3 separate regions of the Homo sapiens genome follow, and regions 1 and 3 are each linked to region 2. The links come from fine-mapping of genetic effects on gene expression. A gene starts in region 2. Each other region holds a variant in brackets. All regions are shown on one strand. Distances are from middle to middle. Region 1 overlaps SIK3 (SIK family kinase 3). Region 2 holds the start of PCSK7 (proprotein convertase subtilisin/kexin type 7). Region 3 holds the start of LOC100652768 (a long non-coding RNA gene).

The links. PIP is the estimated chance that this variant, and not a neighbour inherited with it, causes the effect.
Region 1: its variant is fine-mapped to the expression of PCSK7 in whole blood (TOPMed, PIP above 0.99).
Region 3: its variant is fine-mapped to the expression of PCSK7 in whole blood (TOPMed, PIP above 0.99).

Annotation. Positions count from the first base shown.
Region 1 is chr11:117,058,536-117,067,760 of GRCh38, reverse strand. All of the region lies in intron 1 of SIK3 (SIK family kinase 3), which reads left to right. Among named protein-coding and RNA genes, the nearest start is that of SIK3, 35 kb to the left of the region's middle. RefSeq lists a silencer at 3,151-3,351 and enhancers at 4,133-4,232, 4,413-4,522. The variant C/TC (reference allele first, on the strand shown) is at 5,114.
Region 2 is chr11:117,227,068-117,237,880 of GRCh38, reverse strand. It overlaps PCSK7 (proprotein convertase subtilisin/kexin type 7), which reads left to right and starts at 5,808. Exons shown (of 17, transcript NM_004716.4): 1 at 5,808-5,854; 2 at 7,413-7,532; 3 at 8,025-8,504; 4 at 9,531-9,665; 5 at 10,559-10,724. The coding sequence starts at 8,037. RNF214 (ring finger protein 214) reads right to left here and starts at 5,210. Exons shown (of 15, transcript NM_207343.4): 1 at 5,155-5,210; 2 at 3,502-3,614. The coding sequence starts at 3,608. RefSeq lists enhancers at 1,585-2,086, 5,961-6,010, 6,880-7,119 and silencers at 5,071-5,410, 5,621-5,770.
Region 3 is chr11:117,200,346-117,211,158 of GRCh38, reverse strand. TAGLN (transgelin) reads right to left here. Exons shown (of 5, transcript NM_003186.5): 2 at 7,966-8,157; 3 at 7,675-7,852; 4 at 7,275-7,377; 5 at 3,695-6,944. The coding sequence starts at 8,145. The coding sequence ends at 6,800. PCSK7 (proprotein convertase subtilisin/kexin type 7) reads left to right here. Exons shown (of 17, transcript NM_004716.4): 13 at 2,106-2,262; 14 at 3,095-3,189; 15 at 3,999-4,092; 16 at 4,361-4,478; 17 at 4,803-6,822. The coding sequence ends at 5,162. LOC100652768 (a long non-coding RNA gene) reads left to right here and starts at 9,245. Exons shown (of 8, transcript NR_045215.1): 1 at 9,245-9,398. RefSeq lists enhancers at 2,169-2,669, 3,510-4,140, 4,141-4,771, 4,772-5,402, 8,581-9,244 and 1 more. The variant G/T (reference allele first, on the strand shown) is at 7,050.

The DNA of each region.
Region 1 (9,225 bases), 170 kb after region 2:
CCCGCCTTGGCCTCTCAAAGTGCTGGGATTACAGGCATGAGCCACCGTGCCTGGCCACATTTTGATATTTTTAATCAACTTTATTGAGGCATAATTTACATTCAATAAGATTGAACCATTTTAAGTTTACAATTTGAATTTTGACAAATATACACACCCATTTAATAACCATACAATCAAGATACAGAACAATTCAGTCTCGCAGAAAGTTACAGTAGCACTGTTTGCATTCATTCTCATCCTCCTCCACTTCCAGAAAACCACTGATTTGCTGTCACCATAGGTTAGTTTTGCTTTTTCTGGAATTTCATATAAATGGCCTCATCTAGGATGTACTCTTCTTTCATCAGCATTCTTTAAGATTCATTTATTGTTGTTTGTATCAGAGTTTGTTGTTTTTTATTGCTGAGTGGTAATCTGAGTAGTGTTACATTGTATGGATGTAACAAGATTTGTTTATTCATTCACCTATTGATGAACATTTGGATTGTGTCTGGTTTTCTTGCTTTTATGAATAAGGCTGTTATGAACTTCATGTACAGCTTTGCGTAGATGTATGTTTTCATTTCTCTTAGGTAAATACCTTACAGTGGAATGGCTGGGTCATATGGTTGGTAGGTTTATGTTTAACTTTTAAAGAAACTGCCAAATTGTCTTCCAAAGTTGCCGTACCATTTTATATTCTCTTTAGCAATATATGAGATAGGAGAGTTCTAGTTGCTTTAAATCCTTACCATTGCTAAAATGATATATCTTAAATTTTAGTTGTTCCAATAGTTGTGTCATGGTATCTTGTGGTTTTAATTTACATTTCCCTAATGACTAATGATATTGAGTATCTTTTTATGTACTTATTTTCATGCTGTGTATCTTCTTTGGTGAAGCATTTGTTCAGATCTTTTGCTCATTAAAAGAAATGGGCTGACCGGGCACAGTGGCTCATGCATGCCTGTAATCCCAGCACTTTGGGAGGCCAAAGTGGGAGGACCACTTGAAGCCAGGAGTTCGAGACCACCCTGGGCAACAAGCGACACTCTGTCTCTACAAAAAACTTAAGAATTAGCTGGGTGCTTGGCATGTGCCTTTAGTCCCAGCTATTCAGGAGTTTAAGGTGGGGGGATCACTTGAGCCTAGCTGTTTAAGGCTGCAGTGAGCTGTGATGGTGCCATTGCACTCCAACTTGAGTGACAGAGCAAGACCCTGTCTTTCCAAAAAAAAAAAAAAAAGGATTGTTTCTTTATAGTTGAATATTGAGAATTCTTTATATATCCTGGATACAAGTCCTGTGTTATATAAATGCTTTACGCTTTGCAAAGATTTTTTTTTTTTCCGATTCCATGGCTTATTTTTTCATTCTTTCAGCAGTGTCTTTTGAAGAGCAAGAGTTTTTAGAGGCCAGGTGCGGTGGCTCACGCCTGTAATCCCAGTACTTTGGGAGGCCGAGTTGGGTGGATCACTTAAGGTCAGGAGTTTGAGACCAGCCTGACCAACATGGTGAAACCTCATCTCTATGAAAATACAAAAATTAGCCAGACATGGTGGCGTGTGCCTGTAATCCCAGCTACTCAGGAGGCTGAGGCAGGAGAATCACTTGAATCCGGAGGCGGAGGTTGCAGTGAGCTGAGGTCACACCACTGCACTCCAGCCTGGGTGACAGAGCAAAACTCCATCTCAAAAAAAAAAAAAAGAAGAAAAGAAAAGAAAAATAAAGTATTCTAGTGAAGACCGGATTCCTTGGCATAAGACACCAGGAATTTTAGATTGATAGGAGTAAAAATAAATAAAGAAATATTGGCTCAGGGAATAAACTTCATTAAAATCAATTTATGGGCCAGGTTTGGCGGCTCACACCTGTAATTGTGCAGCACTTTGGGAGACTGAGGTGGGCAGATCACTTGGGGCCAGGAGTTCGAGACCAGCCTGGCCAACAGAGTGAAGCCCTGTCTCTACTGAAAATACAAAAATTAGCCAGGTGTGGTGGTGCATGCCTGTAATACCAGCTACTAGGGTGGCTGAGGCAGATGAATTGCTTGAATCCTGGAGGTAGTGGTTGCAGTGAGCTGAGATCGTGCCACTACACTCCAACAGTGTGAGACTCTGTGTCAAAAAAAAAAAAAAATCAATTTATGAAAGTTATTTTTAAATTTGAAGATATTGAAGATACTAAATTTGTGTTTAAAAAGCATTTATTTTGATCAACTCCGCTGTATAGAATATTTTGTCTTAAGTCACTGTAAAGTTTCCATGCCCTCAAATGAAATACAGTGCCAGGTTTAACATTCGTTTTCATGGATTGTTTTCAAAAGTTATTGAGTTGTCTGATTTGCTGTAAAAAAAATGAAAAATTCATTTCTTTTATTAACATGATGTATTTACTGTGATTATTCTAATAGACTAATGGACTTTTAATTTTACTGTTTAAAATAGTTTATAATTAAAATTTAATATCCAGTCTTCACTTGTTCTTTCATTTTTTAAAATAATAAAGTAGTTTGGGGTTTATCAGAACAAGGGAAGAAACCAAGCTACGTCTCATTTTATGTTGGGTAAGAATCACTAGAGACGAAATTATTATTATTATTATTGTTATTATTATTATTATTATTATTTTTGAGATGGAGTCTCCCTGTGTCACCCAGGCTGGAGTGCAGTGGTGCAATCTCAGCTCGCTGCAACCTCTGCCTGCTGGGTTCAAGCAGTTCTTCTGCCTCAGCCTCCCGAGTAGCTGGGACTACAGGCGTGTGCCACCTTGCCCAGCTAATTTTTTGTATTTTTAGTGGAGATGGGGTTTCACCATGCTGACCGGGCTGGTTTTGAACTCCTGACCTCGTGATCTGCCCACCTCGGCTTCCCAAAGTGCTGGGATTACAGGCGTGAGCCACCGCCTGGCCGACAAAGTTACTTTCTATGGGATCAATTCCTGAGTTTTATCTAACACGAGAATTTTAGCAATTAAAAGTCAAGTGCAGTTCAGATATATTAGTTTAGGTAATATTTTTAGTGTTTGAAGAGAGCTCAATTTGTAAGCCATTTAGCTACTAATTACCCTGCCTTTGCTGTAGAAAGAACTTAAATGAAAGACCTGTTTTAAGATGCCTTTTTAAAAAGCAGCCGTTGTAGGTATAAGAGTTGAAAAATCAAGATCTAGGCAGCAGTGGAGAATTATGAAGTCTGATAAGATAATATGCTAAAATTGTATTGTTAATTCTGATTTGTGACAGTGCTTATCAGTAGAAAAGAAATGTGATCTGTGGTTAAAGACTGAACTGCCACTAAATGTAAAATGTTTTTTAGATGAGTTGGAAGAATGCTGAACCAGTCTTTATTGCCCAAGATGGCTTTGAGTCAGCAATCTCAAAGAATAAAGAAAAAGGAGTTAAGAGTGAGAGGCAATAAGTAATATGCTGTTTTCATTTAAGATGTCTTGAAGAGATAATTAAAAAGTTGTAGGGGTATAGGAATTGTGATGTTTCTCTGGTGTTAATGAAGTCTACTATAAATTAGATAATACAGGCACTCTAAATTATTGTTTTTCCTTTTTTAAATTCTTGGCAGTTACTGACAAATTATACTCAGGATCAAGTTTAAGTCTCAGTACATGAATGACCCTGACATTGAAAACCCTGAAGGATGTTGACCTTAGTTTTGACCTGGCTTTATCCTGAGCAGCCTCTGTGAATTCTTAATGCTGTGCTCTTTAACAGGGGTACTTTTTCCAGATGTTTTTGATACTGTATTCATTAACATATAATAAAGTTATCAGTGTCCCTGAAGGCTAATTTTTTTTTTCTGACTGAATATGAGATATGGAGCGTGCAATTTGTACTTATTGGTATTAACATTACCAACAAGGTTTGTCTTTTTCTTATAAGATGGGGAATCTTAAGAAACTTCAGGCCAGGCGTGGTGGCTCATGCCTGTAATCCTAGCTTTGGGAAGCTGAAGTGGGGCGAATCACTTGAGATCAGGAGTTCGAGAACAGCCTGGCCAAGGTGAAACCCCGTCTCTACTAAAAATACAAAAAATTAGCCAGGCGTAGTGGTGGATGCCTGTAATTCCAGCTACTTGGGAGGCTGAGGCCCGGGAGACAGAGGTTGCAGTGAGCCGAGATCATGCCATTACACTCCAGCCTGGGCAACAGGGTGAGATTCCATCTAAAAAAAAAAAAAAAAAAGAAACTTCATTAAGAAGTTAAAGCCTGGGTATGCTCTCCTTGATAATTTCTTTTTACTCACATCTTTATTGGTAAATCAGGCCAGAAGGATTATTTACCTTTTCAGAAAGGGAAACTAGGTTCTACGGTTTGGTTACAGATAGCCTGGCAGCTGACTTTACATTGGGCAGAGGAGACTGCCGTACTTAGTGGTTCTGAGAAACCAAGAGAGTATTGCCTGCTACAGCTATGAGAAAAGGTATTGAATCTTCCCCCTCCTTTGTGGGGGAATTCCAATCTCACTAATTTATGGTTTCAGTGTAGTTATGGTCATAGCTTCTGAGACGTGGGTACTCATTGAAGCTAACAGTTTTAGAGAAAGGGGAGGGTGTTTAATTCCAATAACTGGTAGTTTATATCACTTTAATAATTTAGACCCAATGATATGAAGATTAGTTAGTATAAGGCAGATATACATGTAATACATTCTTTTAAATATTGTACAAGGAGTAAGAAACCCCTTTAAGTAGTCATGTAATTCATTATAGCAGCTGAACATTTCTAAGTGCAACATTATAGGAAACCAGTAAAGCTGATTTCTGATTTATCTGCAGCAAAAGAATTTAATATTCCAACTTCAGCAAAAGGCAATTAAAAACAAACTTAAATCACATTGTGTGCTTTTAATACGTATGTTTTTTTCCATGCTGTCTGATGTATTTTAGTTCTTAGTCATTTACTTCCATTAGTTTCCAAATTGGTTGAGGGAATTAAATTGGTAGCCAAGTTACCTATACAAGATTTTCCTACTGTGTATGTGAACCACTCTTTCTGGGAAAATCCTCCCGTTGGCACTTTTCTTGAAGGCATGCACTTTTTCCACACTTAGTGATTTGGGGACTGAAGCCTGCATTTAGCCTGTATTTAGTCAGAGGTGACAAATGGCTAAATTTTTTTTTT[C/TC]CAGTTTAGAGATTGAGAAATGATTCAGAATTGAAACTAAAGTGAATTTGGACTTACTGTATTTCTTTGCAATTACTTTTAAACAATTGCTGTCTGTTACTATTAGGCATATTTTGGACCTATGGGTTCCATTTTGGGCCGATATTTGGTGTTATGTTGTTAAATTTCTTGCCTGGCTTAGATGGTTCATTGTTGAAACTAAACTGGAACTAGGTTTGATCAGAGGGCCAATGGAAATGCACGTTGTGGCCCATTTGGGGAGGACAAAATTTGACATATTTTTACTTTAAGAATTCTTAGGAAAATTTGGATAACGTGAGAATATATTTCCAAAGGGTTAAGTAATTTTCGAGGGAAAATCAGAAAGCTTGTAATTCCTACTGAAAATATTAGCCTGCTGAAATATTAGCCTATTTCCTACTGAAAATATAACATTAGCAGGCCGGGCACAGTGGAGTTCACGCCTGGCTAATTTTTGTATTTTTAGTAGAGATGGGGTTTCACCATGTTGGCCAGGCTGGTCTTGAACTCCTGACCTCAAATGATCTGCCTACCTACGCCTCCCAAAGTGCTGGGATTACAGGCGTGAACCACTGTGCCTGGCTTGACTTTTTTATTTAAAAAAAAAAAATCTATACCCAATTGCCCTATCAGTTTATCATTTACTCACTTATTTGAAACGGTCATATTAACATACACTCTTTATTTATTTATGTGCCTATACTTTGTTTTAATTACTGTATCTTTAGAATATGTTTCAAAATTTCATTAACTATTATAATTGATTCTCTTTTTTTGTAACGTATCATCAGCAAATAATAATTTGGACTCTTCTAATATTTCTGCTTATTTATTGACATTTTCAAAGAATAGCTTATGATTGATAATAATCATACCAGCGAATACAGTGCTTTTCAACTTAAATATGCACAGCAATTACCTGAGGATCTTATTAAAATGAAGACTCAGTAGGGCTGGAGTGGCCTGAGAGTCTGCATTTTGACAAGCTCCCAGGTAATGTTGACTTATGGGTTCATAGACCTTATGTTGAGTTACAGGGAACTAAGATTTATTGAGTACTTAATTTGTTCTGGTCAGTGCTTTTACATCTGTGAACTCGTTTAATCTTTAAAACTCCATGATGATTATTATCCCCAATTTGCCAGTGAAGAAACTGACACTTAGAGAAGTTTATAACTTACCCAAAGTGACGCAACCATTAAGTGGAAGAGCCAGACTGAGCCCAAGCAGAGTTTGCACTCTGAACCTCTCGAATATATTGCTTTACCACATGCGTGTTCGCTCACACACACACACAACAGACATTATCTTCTCTTGTGTGACTCAAATGGTAATACCTTAAAATTTTTTTTTTAATGAATAGGCTTTATTTTATCTATTTTTTGAGATGGGGTCTTGCTCTGTTGCCCAGGAGTGCAGTGGTATGATCGCAGCTTACCACAGCCCTGAACTTCTGGGCTCAAGCCATCTTCCTGCCTCAGCCTCCTGAGTAGCTGGGACTACCGGTGTGTGCCACCATGCCCAACTAATTTTTAATTTTTGATAGAGACGAGGTCTTACTGTGTTAGCCCTGCCTGGTCTCAAACTCCTGGCCTCAAGCGATCCCTTCACCTCAGCCTCCAAAAGTTCTGATATTACAGGTGTGAGCCACAGCATCTGGCCAGGCTTTATGTTGAGAAGTTTAGAGTTTACAGAAAAGTTGAGCAGAAAGTACGGAGAAATCCCACATATCCCATTATCTCTGCCTGTCCTCACGATTTTCCCTGATATTAACATCTTGCATTAGTGTGGTACATTTGCTACAATTGATGAGCAATATTGGTACATTAACTAAAATTCATAGTTTACATTAGAATCCATAGTTTGTGTTGCACATTTGTAAGAGTTTTCACAAATTTGTAATGTTGCATATCCATTATTACAGTATCATACAGAATAATTTCACTACCCTAAGAATTCCCTGTGCTGTACCTATTCATCCCTTCCTCTCCTCAGTCCCTGGCAATCACTGATTTTTTTTTTTTTTTTTGAGATGGAGTTTTGCTCTTGTCATCCAGGCTGGAGTGCAATGGCATGCTCTCGGCTCACTGCAAACTCTGCCTCTCGGGTTCAAGCGATTCTCCTCCCTCAGCCTCCCGAGTAGCTGGGATTACAGGCATGCGCCACCACGCCTGGCTAATTTTTATATTTTTAGTAGAGATGGGGTTTCACCATGTTGGCCAGGTTGGTCTCGAACTCCTGATCTCAGGTGATCCGCCTGCCTCGGCCTCTCAAAGTGCTGGGATTACAGGCATGAGCCACCTCGCCTGGCCAATCACTGATCTTTTTACTGTCTCCATAGTTTTGATGTTACCAGAATGGCATTATTGCATGTAGCCTTTTCAGATTGACTTTTTTTCACTTAGTAAAGTGCATTTAGGTTTCCTCCAAGTTTTTTCATGGTTTGATAGCTCATTGTTTTTAGCACTAATATTCCATTGTCTGGATTTCCACTGTTTATTTACCCATTCACCTATTAAGGAACTTGTTGGTTGCTTTCAACTTTTTTCAACTATGAATAAAGCTGCTATAAACATCTGTCTGCAGGTTTTGTGTGGATATATGTTTTCAGCTCATTTGGCTAAATACCAAAGACAGAACTGCGTGATCATATAGTAAGAGAATGTTTAGTTTTCTAGAAACTGCCAAACTGTCTTACAAAGTGGCTGTACTATTTTGCTTTCCCACCAGCAGTAAATGAGAGTTCCTGTTGTTCTATATCCTTACCAGCATTTGATGTTGTCACTGCTTTGAATTTTAGCCATTCTAATAGGTATGTGGTGTCTCGTTGTTGTTTTAATTTGCAGTAGCCTAGTAACATATGATGTTTAGCATCTTTTCATACACTATTTGCCATCTGTATATATCGGTGAGGTATCTGATCATATCTTTTGCCCATTTTAAAATTGGGATGTTTGTTTTCTTATTGTTGAGTTTTAAGAGTTCTTTGTATATTTTGGATACCAGTGCTTCACCAGATAGGTATTTTGCAAAGATTTTCTTCTAGCCTGTGGCTTGTTTATGCCTTTAGTTTTTTACCATTAAATATGTTGCTTGCTGTCTGGTTGTGACAAATAATCATCAAGTTAAGAAAGCTTCTTTCTTTGTCTCTCTAAGAGCTTTTGTCAGGAATGGCTATTCAGGGAAGTCCTTGAAAATTATTTGGCTAAACAAATAGATTAAGCTTTGTTTTTAGCAAGACATCCTGTTTTATTCCATATAATTAAAAACACATTCTTTATAGTGTGATATTAAGACTGTAACTGAGACTTTAATTCCTATTCCTTCTAAATCATTTTCTCTTACTCTGTGATTTTGTATGCCTTTAATGTCCATGTTGATTACTTGTCCAGCATCTTAATCTCATCTGACTTGGTCTTTCTTCTCCCAGCTATCTGTTCTTCCACTTCTCTGTAGCAATTTATTTCTGTGGCCAAACGTCCACTTCTGGAATTACAAATCTGTAAATTTTTCTCTTTGAACACAATTTCCTGTCTTTTCAGTTCTTCCATTTGCTGAGTTTATTTTCTCATTTCACTGAGGCCGCCAGCCCCTTAAATCTCCATTGTCTCCCAATTTGTGACATTCTTCCTGGCATCACTTTATCCCATATGGATGCCATAATTGGTCACTTTCAATGAGTCATCAGTATCCGCAGTTCTCCTGCATCTTTGTTCTTCTTTCCCACATGCCATGCAGATCTCCAGCTGTGGATTAACAGTACTGCCCTTTTTCTGTGTTCCCGCTCTAGGGCCTGAAGAAATGATTTCATCATATTAATTTGTTCTTTTGCTAATCCATGGGTTTTAGCCTCATCTGTGCTTATTATTCTCTTTAGTAGTTTTCTCACTTGTTTGGAGTTGATTTCATTTCTCCTTCACCAGAATGACAGTTCTTTCTAAATCTTTCCACATTTTCCTTTGGTTCGTGTCACCTTCCTCCATTGCAGCTGATTCTACACTTCAGCAGAGTGACCTTTAAAAAGAGAGAAAACAACAAATCTATTATGTTATTTCCTGTACAATACTGTTCATTATAAAGATGGAGGTAAT
Region 2 (10,813 bases):
CTTTGACCAGAACCACTTTTTAGGTTCTTCAACAGTTTTCCAGAGTATAGAACCTACACTTTAAGTTGTCTAAAGTACAATTTTGAATCCAAAATTGAAGCTGTCAATAGAAATTTTATCCCACACAGTAAGTATACATATGCTTAACATTAGGATATTCTGTCACTTGTCACAGCCATTCAAGGTATTGCTTTTATTTTTTATTTATTTATTTATTTTTTGAGACAGGGTTTCACTTTGTCACCCAGGCTGAAGTGAGGTACTGCTTTTTAAAGGGGACTTTAAAACATATTTACAATGACATCCAACATTCACAATTGCACATCTTTCACCCAGGAATTACGCCTATGTTTAATTTCTTTGACCCCACCCTCTTTTTTTAAACTAATTCTATAACTGACACTCTTAACCATACCCAACTAGCAATGGGGATTCAAGTTGATGCGTCTTTGTTTCCTCAGTCGTACTAGTTCAAAATAAAACAACTGAAAGAATATCTCGCTGGGGAGCAATGGCTCATGCCTGTAATCCCAACACTTTGGGAGGTCAAGGCAGGAGGATCATTTGAGGTCAGGAGTTCAAGACTAGCCTGGGAAACATAGCAAGACCCTCTCTCTACATAAAAATTTAAAAATTAGCCAAGTGTAGTGGCGTGCACCTGTAGCTTCAGTTACTTGGGAGGCTGAAGTGAGAGGACTGCTTAAGCCCAGGAGGTGGAGGCTGCAGTAGGCCATGATCGCACCACTGTACTCCAGCCTGGATGACAGATGGAGACCCTGTCTCAATAATATTAATAAAAACACTCGAAGCTGATTCCTTCCTGCTGGGAGTTAACTGTGAGCGGGTGCTTAATTAAAAATTCAGGCATATACAGTACCTGAGTTTGAATCCTGACTCCGCCCACCATTTACAAGCTGTTTGACTCTCGGCAAGTTACCTCATTTGTAAAACAGAAATAATACTATCCACCTAACAAGACTGTTGTGAGGATTACATGAGATAATGCACATAAAGTACTCAGTACAGTGCCTGGCACATAGTAAACATTCAATAAACCTTAGCTGCCATTATTACTAGTGTATGAAGTTGATTTTATTTATCAAAACTCTGACTCCAACATAGCTTGGAAACCTTGGGCAAATTACTAACCTCTCTGTGTCTCAGTTTCCTCACCGGTAAATGCGAATAATATTATCACTACCTCCTGGGACTGTTGTGAAGATTAAATGTGTTACCACGTATGGAACTGTAGTTAAGTGTTAGCTACTGTATTAGGGGACCCAGGTACACTGGAAAAGAGTTGAGGGACGGCCAGGTGCGGTGGCTCATGCCTGTAATCCCAACACTTTGGGAGGCTGAGGCGGGCGGATCACAAGGTCGGAAGATCGAGACCATCCTGGACAACATGGTGAAACTCTGCCTCTACTAAAATACAAAAAATTAGCCGGGTGTGGTGGCGGGCGCCTGTTGTCCCAGCTACTCAGGAGGCTTAGGCAGGAGAATCGCTTGAACTCGGGAGGCAGAGGTTGCAGTGAGCGGAAATCGCGCCACTGCACTCCAGCCTGGGTGACGGAGCAAGATGCCATCTCAAGAACAAAAAAAAAACAAAAAAATTGACGGAGCTAGGTGCAGTGGCTCATCCCTGTAATTCCAGCACTTTGGGAGGCCAAGACGGACAGATCACTTGAGGTCAGGAGTTCAAGACCAGTCTGGTCAACATGGTGAAACCCGGTCTCCACTAAAAATACAAAAATTAGCCGGGCTACCAAGCAGGTGCCTATAATCCCAGCTACTAGGGAGGCTGAGGCAGGAGAATCACTTGAACCCGGGAGGCAGAGGTCGCAGTGAGCCAAGATCGCACCACTGCACTCCAGTCTGGGGGACAGGGCAAGAGTCTCTCTCAAAAAAAAAACAGAGTTGAGGAAGAATACACAGTCAGCCTCTTTATGTAGAATGTGGTCCACATTCATGGACTCAACCAACCATGGACTGAAAATATTCAAAAGGATAAACGTTTGTGATGATGGACATGCTAATTACCCTGATCTGATCACTATACATCACATACACCACAACATCACTATGTACCCCCATGAATACGTACAATTATCGTGTCCATTTTTTAAAATATAAAAATAAATCACTGAAAAGTAAAATACCCAGTCTGGCCAACGTGGCAAAACCCCGTTTCTACTCAAATACAAAAATTAGCCAGGCGTGGTGCTGGGCGGCTGTAATCCTAGCTACTTGGGAGGCTGAGGTAAGGGAATCCAGGAGACGTTTGAACCCAGGAGACGGAGGTTGCAGTGAGCTGGGTTCACGCCATTGCACTCCAGTCTGGGCGACAGAGCGAGACTCCATCTCAAAAAAAAAAAAAAAAAAAAAGGCTGGGCGTGGTGACTCACGCCTGTAATCCCAGCACTTTGGGAGGCCGAGGCAGGCGGATCACGAGGTCAGGAGATCGAGACCATCCTGGCTAACACAGTGAAACCCCGTTTCTACTAAAAATACAAAAAATTAGCCGGGCGTAGTGGCGGGCGCCTGTAGTCCCAGCTACTGGGGAGGCTGAGGCAGGAGAACGGCATAAACCCGGGAGGCAGAGCTTGCAGTGAGCCGAGATCGCGCCACTGCACTCCAGCCTGGGCCAACAGAGTGAGACTCCATCTCAAAAAAAGAAAAGTGAAATAGATTTGAAACCATTAAAAAAATTTTCAGAAAAAAATTGGATGGTTGCATCTGTACTGAACATGTACAAACTTTTTTACCTGTCATTATTCCTTAAACAACACAACTATTTACATAACATTTACATTGTATTAGTTGTTGTAAATAACCTATTGTTTAAAGTATATGGGAGGACATGCATAGGTTATATGCAAATACTACACCACTTTATTTATTTTTTATCTTTTTAATAGCTTTAAGTAGGGTGGGCATATGCCTATCCCAGATAAAATACTACACCATTTTATGTAAGGGACTTGAGCATTTATAGATTTTGGTATCCTCAGTAGGGGTCCTGGAACCAATCTCCAGCATATACTGTGGGATGACTATATAGCTAATTTAGTTCAACACTGTACATAACAATGTATCATATTAGCTACTATGAGATATAAGTTTGGGTAATTGTGTATCTGTATGTATACATATTTAGATATCCATGTACACATACTGATATAACATTTCTCATATATAACATATAAACATATGGTTAAATGAACATACAGTCCACGTAGGAAAGGGCTGGAAAATGTTTGCATTTTTTAATGAGTTTGACCCCATGTATTCTATTCTATTTATTCCCCAAACATTTAGCATGCCTGCTGAGTATCAGGTGCTGTGTTGGATACCAGAAATACAAAGATAGATCAGACAGTCCTGTACCTTTAAAAAGCTAGTGCAGTGCCATCAGAGCCAAAAAGAAAGACCAGCTACACAAGACCATCTCAAAAACCCTTTACCCAAATGAATCTTCCCAGTCAGGAGTCCACACATTACCTTAGACCATCTGGGAGACCTTCGTCTGATTTGGAAGCACATAAACTAGAAGATTCCGGAGGACTGGGGGCATTGGCCACAACACCAGCAACCTCAGACGCTGCCATTATGCTCTGTACATTCAGAAACAAATTACAGGCTACAAGTTTCCAAAGTTTAAAACAAATGTATCTCTCCCCCCTCAGAATGTCCACACAACAGAGCTGTCGCAGTAAAGAAACACAAAAACCTGGGCTCCGGGAGAAAATACTTAAGAGTACTAAAAGAGACATTGTATGCAAAGTCCTAGTGTCCTAGTGGGCAGCAATCCTCAGGAGTCACTGTATTTACATAAATATCTAGGAGTCTGTGCAAAGATCTTATTTTCACTTTTGGCAGAAATGTAGTCATTTCAAACAATACATCTTAGTCTGCCAGGATCTTCCAAGTGGTCCCAGGCCTACCTTGTCTGCTATCATTTTTAATAAAAGACGTACTTTTCGGCCTAGTATCAATCAGATCTCATGTTTTTAAATCACTTTATGGCTGTTACATTCAAAGCATTCTCCATTAATTTAAGGGAAGTTTTTGGAGGTGTCTGCCTGTAAGTCAACAAGTAATGCAATACTGGGCAATCCAGGGTGCATATTTTACTGTCAGCGTGCTCCCCACAGATGGGAAAGGCCTGATACCCACTAACTGAGCAAAGAACAGACTCTTCAGAGTGACTAGTGGTGCAAAAAAGAATCCTGGGTTCTCTAGCGTGAAAAAGTCAAGGTAAAAAACATGGTAACACAAGTAAGGGAACTGGGACGGACGCCTTTTTTAAAAATCAAAAGGTCATCTTTTATGCCGCAGAGCAAACTTATGACCTTATGAGGAGAAAAGAAAATCAAAATACTTGGGAGGTGGGGATGAACATCGGGTTAGTTTGCATTCTTGCTTTTATTTTAACAGCATCACACGTATTCCCCCCCGGAACACTGAAGAGCGCATAGGGCAGATAGGTAGATGGGGCTGTGTCAACACCTCAGTCACAGCCCACAGACCCTCTGTGCCTCAGTTTCCCTCATTATACAAAGCTCCTGGGAGAAAATGGGCCCAAACCGCCATTGCTGCTCCCTCAGGTGCAAACATCCCGTCTCCAACATAGCCCAGGGCTGGGGGGTCCTCTGCGCCCGGTGAACGAAACCCCAGGACAAGGGCCATGCATGCAACTCCGTGGCTAGAGAGCCCGTGGCGCGGGTAGGAACAGCTGGCTGGAGGGTCGAGTGTACCAAAAAGAACTCCGCAACCCGGGGCGACCACCAGCGAAGCAGGGGCGCCGGAGCCACGGGTCCTCGGGCGAGAACAGGGGACAGACGGGAAGGGGACAATGGGGGGAAGCGGCGCTGGGTGGCCTTGGCCACCCCCCACAGGGGACTGCTAGGCTGGCCGCTGGCTCGGACCAGACCCCCCTCCACCCCTTCCCCTCGGTCCCCCCACCCCGCTGCCAGCCACCCCCCCGTCCCACTTCTAGGCCGGGACCCCCGCCTCGGTTCTCACAGCACCCTCCACGCCCCCCACCCGACCCCCATGCCCGGCCCTCGCCCCGCAACCCCCACCCACGCTCGCCCCGCACACACCTCCCGCGCCGCGCCCCCGGGAGGAAAGTGGGGGAGGGACGGGACGCACCTGAGCGGGCGGAGCGGGGGGAGGGGGCGGCCGAGCCACGGGGGGAGGGGTCGAGCGCCGGCCCGCGCGCGGCACCTCCCACTTCCGGCGGCACGAGCGGAGGGGGCGAGGCTCCGGCCGCGAGAGGAGAGGCCGCGGTGGCGCCGCGCCGCCCCCGACGGCGCCCTCTGGCGGCGACAGCTGGCGCCGCCGGGGCACGGGGATGCTGCGGGAGACCCCTGAGATACAAGTGGACTCTCCCGGGGCGCGGGGAAGAAGGGAGAGCCGACTGCGAGAAGGAAGGCGACCTGGGTGGGCAGGATCCCCTCTGGGAAGATTACAGGGACAGTCGGGGCCATGGCGGTCAGAAGGAGAAGAGCAACGAGTGGCTTTTAAAGGTCGGAACCGAAATGCCCTTTACAGAGGACGCCATGAAGGAGAGCCTTCTGAAGAGGGACCATGTGGAAGATGCCCCGAGGACTCGGGGAGGCGGAGCCCGCGGGTTCAGCCCCCAGCGCCCGCACGGCCCCTGCCTGCGTAGGCCGCCCGCGGGAGCCGGACCCCGGGCGCCGGTTGCTGTGGCCCGCGGGGGTCGCCGGGCCGCAGGCGCCGCGCTGATTGGCTGCGCCGCGGGCGGAAGTGATGCTGCTGTCACTGCTCCTCCGGCTCCCGGGAAGCCGCGAGTTTCCGCAGGGAGGCGGCGGCAGCTGCGGCGGGGCCGGTGAGTTGGGAACTAGGTGTGGGGCTGGACCTGGGTGGTCAGGGGGCCCCAGAAGTGGGGGAAGCCGGCGTCTGAGGATGAGGGAGCTGCACAGAGGGTGCCTGAGGTCCTGGCGTGGGGGACCAAGGAGATGGGGCCCCAGGGCCCAGAATTCCTGGATAATGTGGGTGCTAATGAGGAGAGGGGCACATTGCACGGAGCGATCGAGGCCGACGGAGGGAGAATCGGGAAACTGACCCGGTACCCAAGCTGGCTTCTAGGAGCCGGGTGTGGAACAGCGAGGACAGTAGCTTGGGAGCAGGATCTTGGACTCCAGGCTGCCCATTCTCTTCTTCCTTGTCAATTAAGAGCTGTAAAGGGAGGCCTAGCCGTTGGGAGAGGTTGAGACCTGCTTTCAGAAGGCATTTAAGGTTCCTTTCCCAGAAGCCTGGGGGATAAAAATGCTGCTTTGCCACTAGTAGACAGAAGGAGCTCCTGCTTCTCTTTCTTCCTGACATCTGTGGTGGGATCTACTGAGTCTGAAGGAGTCTGCCTAGCGGGGCCACTGTCTGGCTAACAAGGGTTTTGTTTGTTAGTTTGTTTACTTAGTAGAGTATGCAGACTGGGGAAGACACCTAAATATCTTGGGAGAATTGAGGCTCCCGGGGGCAGGGAGGGATTGAGAGGGAATATGCCTGGAAACCTAAGAGAAAACGAGAGGAAGAAATGTAGTATGAAGATTTTTAGAGGTAAAGGAGAGGTGGCATAAGTTCTCCTTTCCAGGAAGCCTTTCAGTAAAATTCCCATTTTTCTGGAATGCTTTGAGGTAGAGCCGCTTGGGTGTGTATCTGAGTACTAAGCCCTGCCCCAGGGTGGACCCAGTGGAGAGCAAAGGCTTTTAAAGGAGCCCAGCCACCATAGGTACACACATGTCCTGCCACCCCATTTGTCTGTCCCCCAGTTCTAACTTGGCTCTTTTTTTTTTTTTTTGAGGGCTCCTGAGACCAATTCCCTGGTTCTGTCAAACCCAGGCAATTGGAGTCCCAGTCTGGAGTCTGAGTCCTCACCTTGAAGCCAGCCTCCTGAGCTCAGTACAGGAGTAGCTGCTTAGTGAGGTTCTCTCATCATTCGTTCTCTCCTGGTTGCCCGCTTGTCCTTGGTGCCTGTTCTGTTTTGTTTGCACTCTCTGGCTTTCCCCGTTTCGCCCCCGCCGCCTCCCTCCTTTCACTTTCCCTGGTATCCTTCTGGGATATACAAATCAAGAAGTTAGCTACCACCTGGACTTCTAGGACGTTATTACCTACTCTTTCAAGAGGCATTTTGGTAACTGTTTTTTGCTAGGCCTCTGGGGAACAAAATGAAAAGAGGGTGGCACGATAGCACAGGAAGTGGGTTTTTTGGGTGTTATACTGATTTGGCCTCACCGTACCAGTTCTGCTCCAGTCTATGACCGATTTTAGATCTTTGGAAATGACAATTAATGAAGTTTCTTTGGTCCCTGGTCCTGGAGTTTATCTAACCTCAGCTTGTTGCCCTGGGATTGGTGGGACATTATTTCTTCTGTTCTTGGATCCCACAGGTCTGTAGCCTTTGCTGAGTCAACACTACTCACAGTGAAAGTGATGCCTTTTCTCCATTTGCACAACATGAGTGTGACGTGGTTAGCCAGACCAGGAGCTCAACCTCATGTAGAATCCAGGTGGGCACGGGGCCCTGTTATGGGGAATTAGCCTTGAGGACAACTGGACTGAGGAGTCAGCTAGGGAAAGATTTATGTCCCCTCTAAATGTAGGGGTGAAGGGGTTGTCTCTGCTAAAGAACAGTCACGATGCAGCCAGTAGTTTGTGGAAGCGATGTGTGCTTTGAGCCCTGTGGGTGGCAACAGGGGTTGCTCGCAGTGCCTGTGAGCAACTGGACCTCCTGCTGGATTAGCTGGTGTCGTGAGGATTGGCTGTCTTGCTGTGGGAGGCCATCCGCTGGTGTTAGTGCTGGCCCACACTCCACCTGGGGGCTTATCCCTGTTGGTCAGGGATAAATGTGAACAAAAAGAGAAGATCAAATGTTTCACAATTTAAAAGGCATGGCTTAGGGACTTCCAGGGGGAACACATGGATGGCTCAGCATCTCCCTCTCAGATTCCTGCAGTTACCAGCTCTTTGATCTCTTCCATATCCTTTTTCTTTGTCTGCAGTCCACTGCTCTGATGCCGAAGGGGAGGCAGAAAGTGCCACACTTGGATGCCCCCCTGGGCCTGCCCACCTGCCTCTGGCTGGAATTAGCCGGGCTCTTCTTACTGGTTCCCTGGGTCATGGGCCTGGCAGGGACAGGTGGGCCTGATGGCCAGGGCACAGGGGGGCCGAGCTGGGCTGTGCACCTGGAAAGCCTGGAAGGTGACGGGGAGGAAGAGACTCTGGAGCAGCAGGCGGATGCCTTGGCCCAGGCAGCAGGGCTGGTGAATGCTGGACGCATCGGAGAGCTTCAGGGGCACTACCTCTTTGTCCAGCCTGCTGGGCACAGGCCGGCCCTGGAGGTGGAGGCCATCCGGCAGCAGGTGGAGGCTGTGTTGGCTGGGCATGAAGCTGTGCGCTGGCACTCAGAGCAGAGGCTGCTAAGGCGGGCCAAGCGCAGCGTCCACTTCAACGACCCCAAGTACCCGCAGCAATGGCACCTGGTGAGTCCAGTCCTGCAGTTTGCAGTTTCAGGTGGGTAGGTTCCAGTCCAGTTCTTTAATGGGCTTTTGACTATATCACTCTTCAGTCACCTCCATCCTTTGCCTGAGGGACCATTTCCCGGTTCTGTGGTGTTTCCCTAGGCTCTCCCTCCCTTCTACTGTCTTCTAGAGGCCGGTGTTCTACAGTGCTCAGGGCACAGATGGTGCAGCCAGGCTGCCTGGGCTCATGGTCCAGCTCTGCCACTTACTAGCATGTGCATTTGGGCAAGCTGCTTAAACTCTGTGCCTCAGCTTCTCCATCTGTAAAGTGGAGATTGTAATAGTGCCTACCTCATAGAGTTATGGTTAGGGTAAGTGAATGTATACATGTGTAGCACTTAGAACCATGCCTGACACATGGTAAACACTATGACATAAGTGATACGATACTACCATTGGCATAAGAGGTGTATCATCTGGCCCGGTGCGGTGGCTCACGCCTGTAATCCCAGCACTTTGGGAGGCCGAGATGGGCAGATCACGAGGTCAGGAGATCAAGACCATCCTGGCTAACACAGTGAAACCCTGTCTCTACTAAAAATACAAAAAATTAGCCAGGCGTGGTGGCAGGCGCCTGTAGTCGCAGCTACTCGGAAGCCTGAGGCAGGAGAATGGCGTGAATCCGGGAGGCGGAGCTTGCAGTGAGCCGAGATCCTGCCACTGCACTCCACACTCCAGCCTGGGTGACAGAGCAAGACTCCGTCTCAAAAAAAAAAAAAAAAAAAGAAGTGTATCATCCAACCCTTCACCCTAGCTACCATTTTATCCCGAATCCCCCATGACTGATGACAAACTTTCCTAGAATCCAAGGCTGTGGCAGAGCTCTCACCTGCTCCTCCTTGACTCTGTTCCCACCTGACCTATTGGTCTGCAATCTGTCTGGCTCTTTGGTGGAGGCCAAGGGTGAAAAGGGGCTGCTAGCTATAACTTCATCTCCCTCTGGGCTGTGCTATGTGTCACTGTATTCCCATCCTGTCTCTCTTACAGAATAACCGACGGAGCCCGGGCAGGGACATCAACGTGACGGGTGTGTGGGAACGCAATGTGACTGGGCGAGGGGTGACGGTGGTGGTAGTGGATGACGGAGTGGAACACACCATCCAGGACATTGCACCCAACTATGTGAGTGGCCCTGGAACGACACCCCTCACTCCCCACGTCTTACCTCCTTCTTGATGTTGCCTCAGTCTTGTCCCCTTTTCTAGAGGTCTTTGGGCCAAATAAAAGAGCCTGGGAGGTGGGATGGGGTTCATCCTCTTCTTTTCCCTAGCTAGCCAGTCAAGGCACAGCAGGTGGCTCTAACTCTAAGAACAATCCTGCTCTCAGTTCTAGTCCTTTTCTGAGGAGTAAGGAGTGGCCCCTGCAGGCAACTTCCCTCTTGTTGGAAATCCGAGTGCCTTCCTCTCTCTAAAGCGTGGCCTCTAGGGAGCCCTACCTGCCTTTTTTCCAGGTTTCCCAAGCCGTGGAGCTGTAGGCACATTCGCATAATGGGCAAGAGAAGTTTGCTGGGAGCTGTGGCACTTCTCAGTTTTGCCCCAGTGTCCTTTGCTCATATCTTTTAGCCAGTGTGGTTTGCAGATAGAAATGGGCTTATTGGGTCCGGGCGCGGTGGCTCACGCCTGTAATCCCAGCACTTTGGGAAGCCAAGGCGGGCGGATCAGGAGGTCAGGAGTTTGAGACCAGCCTGGCCAAGATGGTGAAACCCCGTCTCTACTAAAAATACAAAAATTAGCCAAGTGTGGTGGCGCTCACCTATAGTCCCAGCCACTCGGGAGGCTGAGGCAGAAGAATCGCTTGAACCTGGGAGGCAGTTGTTGCAGTGAGCTGAGATTGTGGCACTGCACTCCAGCCTGGGCAACAGAGTGAGACTCCATCTCAAAAACAGAAACGATGAGAAATGAGCTTATCGCCCTAGCTTCGATTCCCAAACTCCCATTTCCTTTCTGTCCCTGAACCCCAGGACCTGATCCCCTCTAACCAGTGAATGACCACATGTCACCTCCAAAATATTTCAGAGCCCTGAGGGTAGCTATGACCTCAACTCTAATGACCCTGACCCCATGCCCCACCCGGATGTGGAGAATGGCAACCACCATGGCACGCGATGTGCAGGAGAGATCGCGGCTGTGCCCAACAACAGCTTCTGTGCCGTGGGCGTGGCCTACGGGAGCCGCATCGCAGGTAACTTGTGCCTCCAGCCTAGCCTTGGTAGGCTGCTCCTGTGACCACAGTCTTCATTTCCTGCACCCCTCCCTACTCTGAAACATCTT
Region 3 (10,813 bases), 27 kb after region 2:
CAGCCTGGGTGACAGAGCTAGACTCCGTCTCAAACAAACAAACACCCCTGTCCTTGCTCAGTCATCTATAATAGCTCTTAGTTGCTTATTTAAAACAAAAATCTTTAAAGCGCATCCCACCCTAGGTTACCCAGCCCCTACTTTCAGTGCCTCTCTGAGCTACTGTGTCTGTAAAATCAAGGTATTGTACTCTGCCTTGCATATTGGAATAATTTTTTTTTTTGAGACAGGCTCTCACTCTATTGCCCAGGCTAGAGTGCAGAGGCACAGTCATGGTTCACTGCAGCCTCAACCTCCTGGGCTCAAGCCATCCTCCCACCCTCAACCTCCTGAGTAGCTGGGACCACAGGTGCTTACCACTATATCCAGCTAATTTTTTATTTTTTTGTAAAGATGATGTCTCCCAGGCTGAAGTTATCCTCCACCATGCCTGGAGTGAGCCACCATGCCTGGCCTGGAATAAATTAATGGAAGAAAGGGTGCTTTAAAAAGAATTGTATTCGGCCGGGTGCAGTGGCTCACGCCTGTAATCCCAGCACTTTCGGAGGCTGAGGCGGGTGGATCATAAGGTCAAGAGATTGAGACCATCCTGGCCAACATGGTGAAACCCCATCTCTACTAAAAATACAAAAATTAGGTGGCCATGGTGGCGTGCACCTGTAGTCCTAGCTACTTGGGAAGCTGAGGCAGGAGAATCGCTTGAACCCAGAAGGCAGAGGTTGCAGTGAGCCAAGATCATGCCACTGCACTCCAGCCTGGCAACAGAGAGAGACTCTGTCTCAAAAAAAAAAAAAAAAAGAATCGTTCTCATTACAGCCTAATTTCTTAATAGTCCCCAGTTGAGTCTTCCTCTTCAGTAGTTTTTTGTTTTTGTTTTTGTTTTAATAATTGTAGATTTACAGGAGGTTTCAAAGAAATGTACAAGAGAAGTCCCGTGCACCCTTCTCCCAATCTTAATGTTTCACACAATTAAAGTATAATATCAAAACCAAGAAATTGACATTGGTACAATCCATAGAGCTTATTTGGAGTTCACCAGATACACATGCTGTCAATATTTGTGTATGCGCGTGTGTAGCTGTATGCAATTGTATCACATGTAGCCTTGCATAACTACCACCACAACCAAGATCCAGAACAATTCCATTATCACAAGACTCCTTTGTGTTACCCCTTTCTGGCCACACCCATCCCCTCCCCTGTCCCTGGCCCCTGGCACCCATTTATCTGTTATGTATCACTGCAGGTACTTCAATTAACATCACCTAAATGGAATTGTGTGCTACGCATCCTTTTTCTTTTTTTTTTTTTCTTTGAGACAGGGTCTTGTTCTGTTGCCCAGGCTGGAGTGTGGTAGCATGAGCATGGCTCACTGCAATCTCCACCTCCCAGGCTCAAGCGATCCTCCCACCTCACCCTCCCCGGTAGTGGGACCACAGGTGCACACCACCACACCTGGCTATATGCTTCTTTTGAGATTGCTTTTTTCACTCACATAATTTGCTTGAAATTTATCCACCAGCATTTTTTAAAAATTAACTGTGCATCATCTTCAGTGAGATGTGTGCATTTCGTCTTTGTTCATGCCTTTTCCACTGCCTAGAATGCCCTCTACCAACCCTGTCTACCGATCTGTATTCATTTCCTTCAGTGTGTCTCACTGCTGTGTGCCTAAACCCATCTGACTTATTTCTCTTCCCTTATCAATTATGTATATTTCCCATACCATATCATTTTCCACTTGCAGGTAGGAGGCAGGGACCACGCCCATCTTATCTTTATATTCCCAGCATCTAGTACAGTGCCTGAAATGGAGGAGGTACCCAGTAAATAATGTTTTGGATGAATGAATGATTGAAGTTGCTCTGCTGGATTCTTATATTGTGTCTTGGGTATGTGTCGTCTTCCCAACTGCACTCGAAGCTACGTTGTAAACTTGAGAGCAGCAGCTCCATTCCATTTACTAGTATAGGCGAGGTCCCAGTTAGGGTTGCCGTAGATGTTTGTATGTGGCTTCAGTGAGCGTGTGTCTTTGTGTACGTGGGGGTGAAGTGAAGGCGTGTTTGTGGGCTGGTTTCCCAGCTGCCCAGCCTGACTTTCTACAGTCAGCAGGATGGACCTGGAGATGTCAGGGCTGAAGACCCTGGAGCATGTGGCAGTGACAGTCTCCATCACTCACCCACGGCGCGGCAGCTTGGAGCTGAAGCTGTTCTGCCCCAGTGGCATGATGTCCCTCATCGGCGCCCCCCGCAGCATGGACTCGTATGTACACCCGCCCGAGGCCTGAGCAACCTTTTCAGCAAGGGCCTTTCCAGGGAAAAGAAATGGAAGAAGTGGATCCTGGCACTGTCCTAAACTACTGTGGCACTGGCTATCCCTGGCGGCTGGAAGCCTTTCGTCACATACCTTCTTCAAGCGCTAGGCCCTGCACCTCACATACATGTTCTCTAATCCTTCTAAGAACCCCCTAGATTAGACTTTGTAACCTCCTTTTACAAATGAGGAAACTGGCTGGGTGTGGTGGCTCACACCTGTAATCCCAGCACTTTGGGAGGTCAAGGCAGGAGAATCACTTGAACTCAGGAGTTCAAGACCAGCCTGGGCAACAAAGTGAGACCCTGTCTCTACAAAAAATTTAAAGATTAGCTGAGCATGGTGGTACATGCCTGTAGTCCCAGCTACTCAGGAGACTGAGGTGGGAGGATCACTTGAACCCAGGAAGTCAAGGCTGCAGTGAGCTGTGATCATGCCACTGCACTCCAGCTTGGATAACAGAGTGAGACCCTGTCTCCAAAAAAAAAAAGAAAGAAAAAGAAAACAAGTCATGGAGCTAGTAAGTGCCCAAGAGAACAAGAATAAACCTAGATCCGTGGGACTCCAAGCCTGTGCGCGCTCCATGCTTGCTTTTTCCACCACACCACGTTAACACAATTTCCTCCTTCCATGAGACCCCAGGGGAAAGGGGCACCTGAGAAGCCCTCGTGGCACCCTCCCAGGTTGTTTCCACGGCTACTACAGTAAGAAAGTGTTGCTGGGGGAAGGTCAGCTCTCTGGCCCACGCCTTCCACCTGTTTCTGCTGTGTTCTTTCCTCAGGGATCCCAACGGCTTCAATGACTGGACCTTCTCCACTGTGCGATGCTGGGGGGAGAGAGCCCGAGGGACCTACAGGCTTGTCATCAGGGATGTCGGTGAGTCTCGTGCCCTCACACCAGGCCCTACCTTTCCTGCTTGTTATCTGGTCCCTCTGCATCTCAGAGTCCCCACAGAAAGTGTCCCGTGTGCAATATATAGGGTTGCCATTGGACCAAGAGAGTTGATGCCAAGAGTGTGCCCATCCGTGAAATGGGCATTGCTCTCTGCAACTGTTCATTTATACTACCTCTCATATTCCCTGGAGGAGTGACCCATCCATCTTTCCTCAGGATAGCAACAAAAAGTCCTTGTCGAAACCACATTTCAAGTCCTTTTACGTATAACCATCCTTCGGCCAGCCCCGGTAGGCAGGTAAGGGCAGGACTCATTTCACCATTTTTTTTAAACTGGCCCAGAGGTTTGAGGTGACTTGTGGAAGGTCACCATATCAGTGAAGGCCACAATATCCATGAATTGTGAATATCTTTAGTATCAGCCTATAGACTGGAAATTGAGCTCCACCCTCCCATCCTCCAGTCAGTTAGGTATTCTCTAGGCCAGTGGTTTTCAAAGCTTTCTTTAATTTGGTGGAAAGACATTTTTTTCTAATCCCAGCTGAACCCCCAAAATACGGGAGAGAAAAGCAAGACTCTGCTTTGGAGTACAGCCTTTCAACCCTTTCCATCCCTAAGGGCACCCAGTGAGGCCCTTCTGCAGAACCTGGGGTCAGTGGGACACAGTGAGGCAGCTCCTGGAGCAGACCATGTGGCCTGAGCCCCTTTGGGTGGCAGGGCGGGCAGGGCCTCTGCTGTCTGGCATGGCTGACAGAGGGGCGTGGCTCACGAGCTGCCCCTTGCTGCCCTAGGGGATGAGTCATTCCAGGTCGGCATCCTCCGGCAATGGCAGCTGACCCTATATGGCTCTGTGTGGAGTGCAGTAGACATCAGGGACAGACAAAGGTGGGTAAAGCCGCATGTGTCAGAGGGAAGGCCAGTCACAGGGGAAGGGCCGCCTAGGGAGCCCATCGCCCTCTGAACCCCAGCTGTGCTTCCCAGTTCCAGCGTCAAGCCGGTAGATGGAGCCCCGGGCTGGGAACTCACAGTCTGGGCCTCTCCTTTTTGCTGTGGGGCTTCCCTGTCTTCACCTGTAAGGCAGGAAAATGGGTGAGGGCAGATGGTATAGGAACCATAGTCAGTGGGGCATCCTCACCTCTTTTCTTCTCCACAGGCTGTTAGAGAGTGCCATGAGTGGAAAATACCTGCACGATGACTTCGCCCTGCCCTGCCCACCGGGGCTGAAAATTCCTGAGGAAGATGGTTACACCATCACCCCCAACACCCTCAAGGTACTAGGGCCAAGACTCAAGCTGCGGGTAGATGGGACTGTCCTGTCTGGGGGATGGAGTTCTTAGTGTGTTTCTCAGGGTGACCTGCGGGGTGAAGGACTGGGAAGACCTGGGTCCCAGCAGTGGTTTCATAGCATTGCTCCTACCCTGCTAGCCTAACTCTTACAGGACAGGCCTTGTCGGGGGAGGGGGCAGAGGGAACAGTTTGGGTGAAAAAGGCAGTCCCTAGAAGGAAAAAGACTTTCTGAGCTCATTGTCCTGGGCTGAGAAAGGCTGTAGGCTTCGGGAAACAGTGCCTCACGTAGGTGCTTGCCTCGGCCCCAGACCCTGGTGCTGGTAGGCTGTTTCACCGTCTTCTGGACTGTTTACTACATGCTGGAAGTATATTTGAGCCAGAGGAATGTGGCTTCCAATCAAGTTTGTAGGAGTGGACCCTGCCACTGGCCCCATCGGAGCCGGAAAGCCAAGGAGGAAGGGACAGAGCTAGAATCAGTGCCACTTTGCAGCAGCAAGGATCCAGACGAAGTGGAAACAGAGAGCAGGGGCCCTCCCACCACCTCTGACCTCCTTGCCCCAGACCTGCTGGAGCAAGGGGACTGGAGCCTGTCCCAGAACAAGAGCGCCCTGGACTGCCCTCATCAGCACCTAGACGTACCGCACGGGAAGGAGGAGCAGATCTGCTGACCTCAGGGCCTGACAGTGTGGGACAGGCTCTTCTTTCCCAAAATTAGGGAGCTCTTGACAGAAAGCAGTTCTGATGCTTACATCTGGAATCTGAGGCATCCTCTGACTCCACTCAAAGAGGGTGAGGGCCTTCTTAAGATACAAATGGTGGAGGATTGCTGCCAGAGAAGTCTGGTCAGAGCCACAGGGTCTGCCTCCAGCCAAACGGGAGCTTTTGGTGAGAAGGTGTTGGACAGGGGATTGGCGCCCCCCTTTGGTTTGGCCTCCATCCTCATCTCTCTTGGGCCAAGCCAGCTGCCTAGGTCCCCCAAGCATGGGGGACCCCTTCCCACATATAAGTTGAGAAGGTGCCTGCCATAGCCAGGAGCGCATCTCAATGGAAACATCACTGGGGTCACTTGGGAAGAGGACTTCGGGGTAGAGGCTGGGAGGAGCCCCTGGACATGCCTGTCCTGAAAGCGGCTGCCTCCATTATCCATTCCCAAGATGCCTGATCAGAAACCAACCATGAATGAACCCCTGGCTCCTTCACCACCCCCACGATTGGTATGATGCTGCCGGCACAGCTGGGATACACACGGCTCCCCCAGGCCTGAGCTGCTTCACTAGGGAATCCTGCGGCAGGACTGCAGAGCAGATGGCAGATGCACATGTTGGAGGAGAGAGCCTTGGGAGCCACTGCCACTCCAGTCCTGCCACCACCCTGTCTTCCTCTGCAAGTGCTCAGGGAAATGGCCTTCCCGCCGGAGGCCAGCTATCTGCCTGACAGGCTGTGACTCTTCTCTCAACCTTGGCCTTCTCCCCTCTTCTGAGCTAGTTGGTTGAATTTTTTTTAATGCTTAAGATTTGTTTTTCTCTTTTCACAGCAACATTTTCTTGAATTTTTTTCTGCACAGCTTTTCCAAAATAAAAACCTTCCAAACAATTCTGCCACTCGCAATCTCTCCTTTCCTCTGTCTCCCCAAAGCCACTGCATGCTGCTGAGTGGCTCCTTTTTCCCTTCGGTCCCCAAGATTCACTCTCCTGTTCTATGGCCTGTTTCCTCTGAAAGAATCTGACTGTCCTGGAATCTTGGCACATGAAGGGTCCTTCAGAGGACGGCAGCCAGGAACACATACAAGCCCGAGATGCCTGCCTGTCCCCTGCGCAGATCTGAAACCATAACAAAAGTGACCAGGGCAAATCAAACTCTGCCAGCCAGGCCTGAGAAAAGATTGATTTTTTTTTTTTTTTTTTGAGTTCCAACCCCAAAAATATTCCAGGACAAGATAGGGGGCAGGCTGGGCTGGTTCTTCTTCAATGGGCTTTTGCCGCCAAGGAGGACAGTGGACTTGGCCCACATCCAGGCTACCCCCAGCCCGCTTCTCCCCTGCTTAGCCCAGGGAGGAGACAGTAGAGGTGATGGGGGCAGCCGGGAGGGAGGGGCCAAGGCAGTGATGCTTTCGGGTAAGAAGTTGGGCTGAGGCTGGGGGCACAGGGAGGAGCTGCCCAGGTGCAGTTACCATTGCTCAGTGACAGAGCCTCAAAGCTTGGCCAGGGCTGAAGGTACCACACGGGTGTGGGTGAGGCAGGCTAAGCGGGATGGCTGCAGCCAAGGAGCTGGGGGAGGGCCGGGCTCAGGGCTAGCCCTCTCCGCTCTAACTGATGATCTGCCGAGGTCGTCCGTAGCCTGTCATGCCGGCCTGGGAGGCCCCTCTGTTGCTGCCCATCTGAAGGCCAATGACATGCTTTCCCTCCTGCAGCTGGCTCTCTGTGAATTCCCTCTTATGCTCCTGCGCTTTCCTAGAAGAGGAGGAACCAGGATAAAGACTTGGTAGAACTGTGTGTTTTCCACCCGTTTTCTGATCCCTCTGTTACGTCCTAGCCCAATCCCATTGCCTTCCTGTT[G/T]CACTTTTTTTCCCTAATCTAGCTTGCCTCATAGGCTAGGGAGACTGAGCGCAGGAGGGTGGAAAGGGAGGGGTCAAGGAGTATTAAGGACCCATTATTCCCCATCCCAGACCCTCACTTTATCCTTTCTTGGCTATCTGCTTCCCCTAATCCTTCCCGCAAGCTCCTTAGAACAAGCCACCTCCCACCCCATGCGGAGACCCAAGCTCCCTGGGGGCCACATACTTCATAAACCAGTTGGGATCTCCACGGTAGTGCCCATCATTCTTGGTCACTGCCAAGCTGCCCAAAGCCATCAGGGTCCTCTGCACTGCTGCCATGTCTTTGCCTGTGAGAAGACAGGAGAGAGGAGATGAACATCAAGAACGTATAAACAAGACTCCAAGCCAGGGCCTGCCCCCGTCTCTCACAAAAAAATGGCCAAACCAGGGCCAAGAGTTGTCCCCAATTCAAGGGAGGCCTCTCAGTGGGCCCTGTGAGCGTGGCGTGTTATTCTCGGCATATCCCATCCCTGCTGTGTGCGGGCAAGCACACCCCTAGTTGTGGCATATTCTGGTCATTCCCTCTCCCTGTCCCAGCACCCTGTCCTCCTGCCCACCTCCTCCCCCAGCCTCTTCCTCTCTACCTTCAAAGAGGTCAACAGTCTGGAACATGTCAGTCTTGATGACCCCATAGTCCTCAGCCGCCTTCAGGAACTGAGCCACCTGCTCCATCTGCTTGAAGACCATGGAGGGTGGGTTCTCGGGCACCTTCACCGGCTTGGAGCCATCAGGGTACAGGCTGTTCACCAGCTTGCTCAGAATCTACCAGGCATAGGGCATAGGACGCAGCTTAGCAGTCAGCTCAGGGATTGGCCCAGGACTCACAGGGTGGCACACCCCAGCCCCCCAGCGCCCTAGCCCAGGGTGCCACTCACCACGCCATTCTTCAGCCAGACCTGGAAGCCCAAGCGCCCACGGTCTGGGCGGCCCACATCAGGGCCACACTGCACTATGATCCACTCCACCAGCCGCTCCTCCAGCTCCTCGTCATACTTCTTCTCGATTTTGGACTGCACTTCGCGGCTCATGCCATAGGAAGGACCCTTGTTGGCCATGTCTGGGGAAAGCTAAAGCAGGCCAGGGTGGAGGAGGGAGGGGCAGAGGGTCAGGGAGCAGCTCTGCTTTCACCCGTGCCAGGCAGCCTTCTAGCTCTGTGCAGGATACCCGGCCATCCTAGACACTTGTCACAGCACTGCCCATCCAGGCCAGGCTCAGCCCCTACTCCAGACACCTCTCTGAACTTGAACACCAGGAAAGAGGATACCAGGTCTTTGGAGGTCTAGAGCAGGGGTCAGTAAACTGTTTTTGTAAAGGATAAGACAGAACATATTTTAGGCTTTGCAGGACACATGGTCTCTGCTGTTGCAGTGTGAAAGCAGCCATAGACAATATGTAACAAATGAACATGGCTTTGTTCCAATAAAACTTTACTTACAAAAGCAGACAGCAGGCTGGATTTGGCCCATGAGCTGTAGTTTGACAACCCTTGGTCTAGAACATTCTTTGCCAAGACCAGCTACAGAGCCACTGGAGAGACCTTCCAGAAGCCACATTGCCCCCACAGAATACAGCCAGCTGGTGCCTTTGTCCAGCTGCGGGTGTGAGGGTTTACTGCCTCTGCCTCAAGCAACCATTACCTCCCACTCTCACCCAGAAGCAGGCCCTGGCCTGGAAGCCCGAACTCCAGAACTCCAGCTCTTTTCAGGTCAGCTCAGCTTCTGGTCTGCAGCTGAAGAGACTAAAACTCGCCCACCCCAGGCAAGGGCGACGAAGCCACCAAAGCCCAAGAGTTCTTGGCAAAGAAGCTGCATTTCCTCAGAGAAATCAGAGACACCTGGTCTACCCATCGACTTCCCCTCATGCCCTTACGCTCTCGTAAGGCTACCCTTACGGAGTAGCCTGAGTAACCAAGAAGTCAGAGTCCCCCAGGGATCTTCCAGAGCCAAGAGTCTGCCTGCCAGGGAATGGGAAGCCTGGCCCCATCCAGCAACTGCCACCCTGAGGGCCTGGGCCTGGCACTGCTCAGGAGTCCCACTCATGGAGAGGGGTGGCAGCAGGAGTGGGCCAGGCAGGTAGGTCCCTGGGCAGACAGACAGGGGTGGCTGGGAACAGGAACAGGAAACTGACCTGTCCACTGATGTCACCCTAGGGTGCTGTGCCTTCTCTCCAGTGTTTGTCTGAAGAGACTTCCAAAAGAGGTACCAAAGGAAGCCGAACCCATCCCCTGGCCTCAGAGGGGTCAGAGGTTGGGAGGGACACGCTGGTCTGAGGATGGACGCAGGAGCGCACTCCCCCGGCTCCCTCTCTGGTGAGACCCCTCCCCACTGGCACCCCACCCGCGGGAAGCAGAGCCAACACTATCACACCCCACTGGTCCCAGGCCAGCTGCCCAGCCCGATGCCCTGCCCTTCCTTTCTCAGGGCTGACAGGCTTTCTGGGCTGGAGTTCCTCATCTGTGAAGTGGGGGTTATGTTACCAACCTCAGAGGGCTGTGAAAATGGGACGGTGTCTGTGAACTCCCTCACATACTGCCTGGCCCTTAGCAGAGCTCCTCGAAATGTCAGTTCTTTGCTGCCCGGAGCCAGGCTCCTGGTAATGACCAGGGAGAGAGCCTGCCCTTGACCAAGGAGTGAAAAACTGACCTCAAAATGTCAGTTCTTTGCTGCCCACTCCAGCCTCCACCCGCTTCTCACAATCATTCCCTGAGCGCGCAGCAGCTCACACGGAACAGAGTTCACACGGACTCATCGAAGTGCCCGTCATTGGGCATCCCTCTCCTCCTTGCGTCTGTTTCCTTATGTGTAAAGTGGGGGCAGGACCACTTCTGAGGACCCAGTTCTCTGAGCACTGGGGATGAGGTGGGCTCCTGGCCCAGCCACCCCTCTCCCTGCCAGTGATGCCAGAGACCCCAAAGGCAGAGTGCTCTGTTCTGCTGTTCAGCTACAAACAGCCAATCCCTCCCTTCACCCTGTGTGTCCCACCCCCGCTCCCCAACCACCCAAGGACTCCTGCACAAAGAACTGTGGTCCAAACCCCCAAGTCAGCTGGGACCAGGTGATTTTGGTAGCCCTGCATCCTGGCTTCCATCCACCCCAGCCTCTGTCTCAGCCTTTGCACCACCATCCCAGACAGGCATCCACCTTCTGTCTCTGGCCCTGCTTCTACCCCCACTCCACCTGCCCTCATGTCTGCCTTCCCCTTCTGCACCCCTGCTGGGCTCCTGAGGAACAGGATGGAAGGAGAGTGTGTCCCCTACCCCCAGCTTCCAGTCTCAGGAGGGTCAGAACAGACAATACAGGTCAAAGCAGCAAGGCTAAGGGTGACAGGTACACAACGCTGCAGCCCCCAGATCTAGAGACAAGATTAGGATTTCGGTCAGAGGGGGATGAAGCACACACCATCCCCACTCCCACCCAGCACCACCATCCTTCCCCTTCCTCCTCCTGGGTCAGGGTCGAAAAGTGGAGAATCCCCAGAAATCCTTTAGAGTCCTCTGATGAAGCCTCCCGAGTCCTGCCTTCGAGCCAGTGGGGAGGGGGAGAGGAGGATGATTACAGGGCGGCCCCCCCAGGGGCATCTCAAGACACTCCCAGGACAGCATGGACAGGCATGGACCCTCCTGCCCTGTGGCTCCTGCCAGGACCCCTCCCCTGAGCTGCCCAGTGGGTGAAAGTGGGCAGTGGAGAAAGAAAGTCCAGGGTCAAACGGGAAGGTGGCACCCCC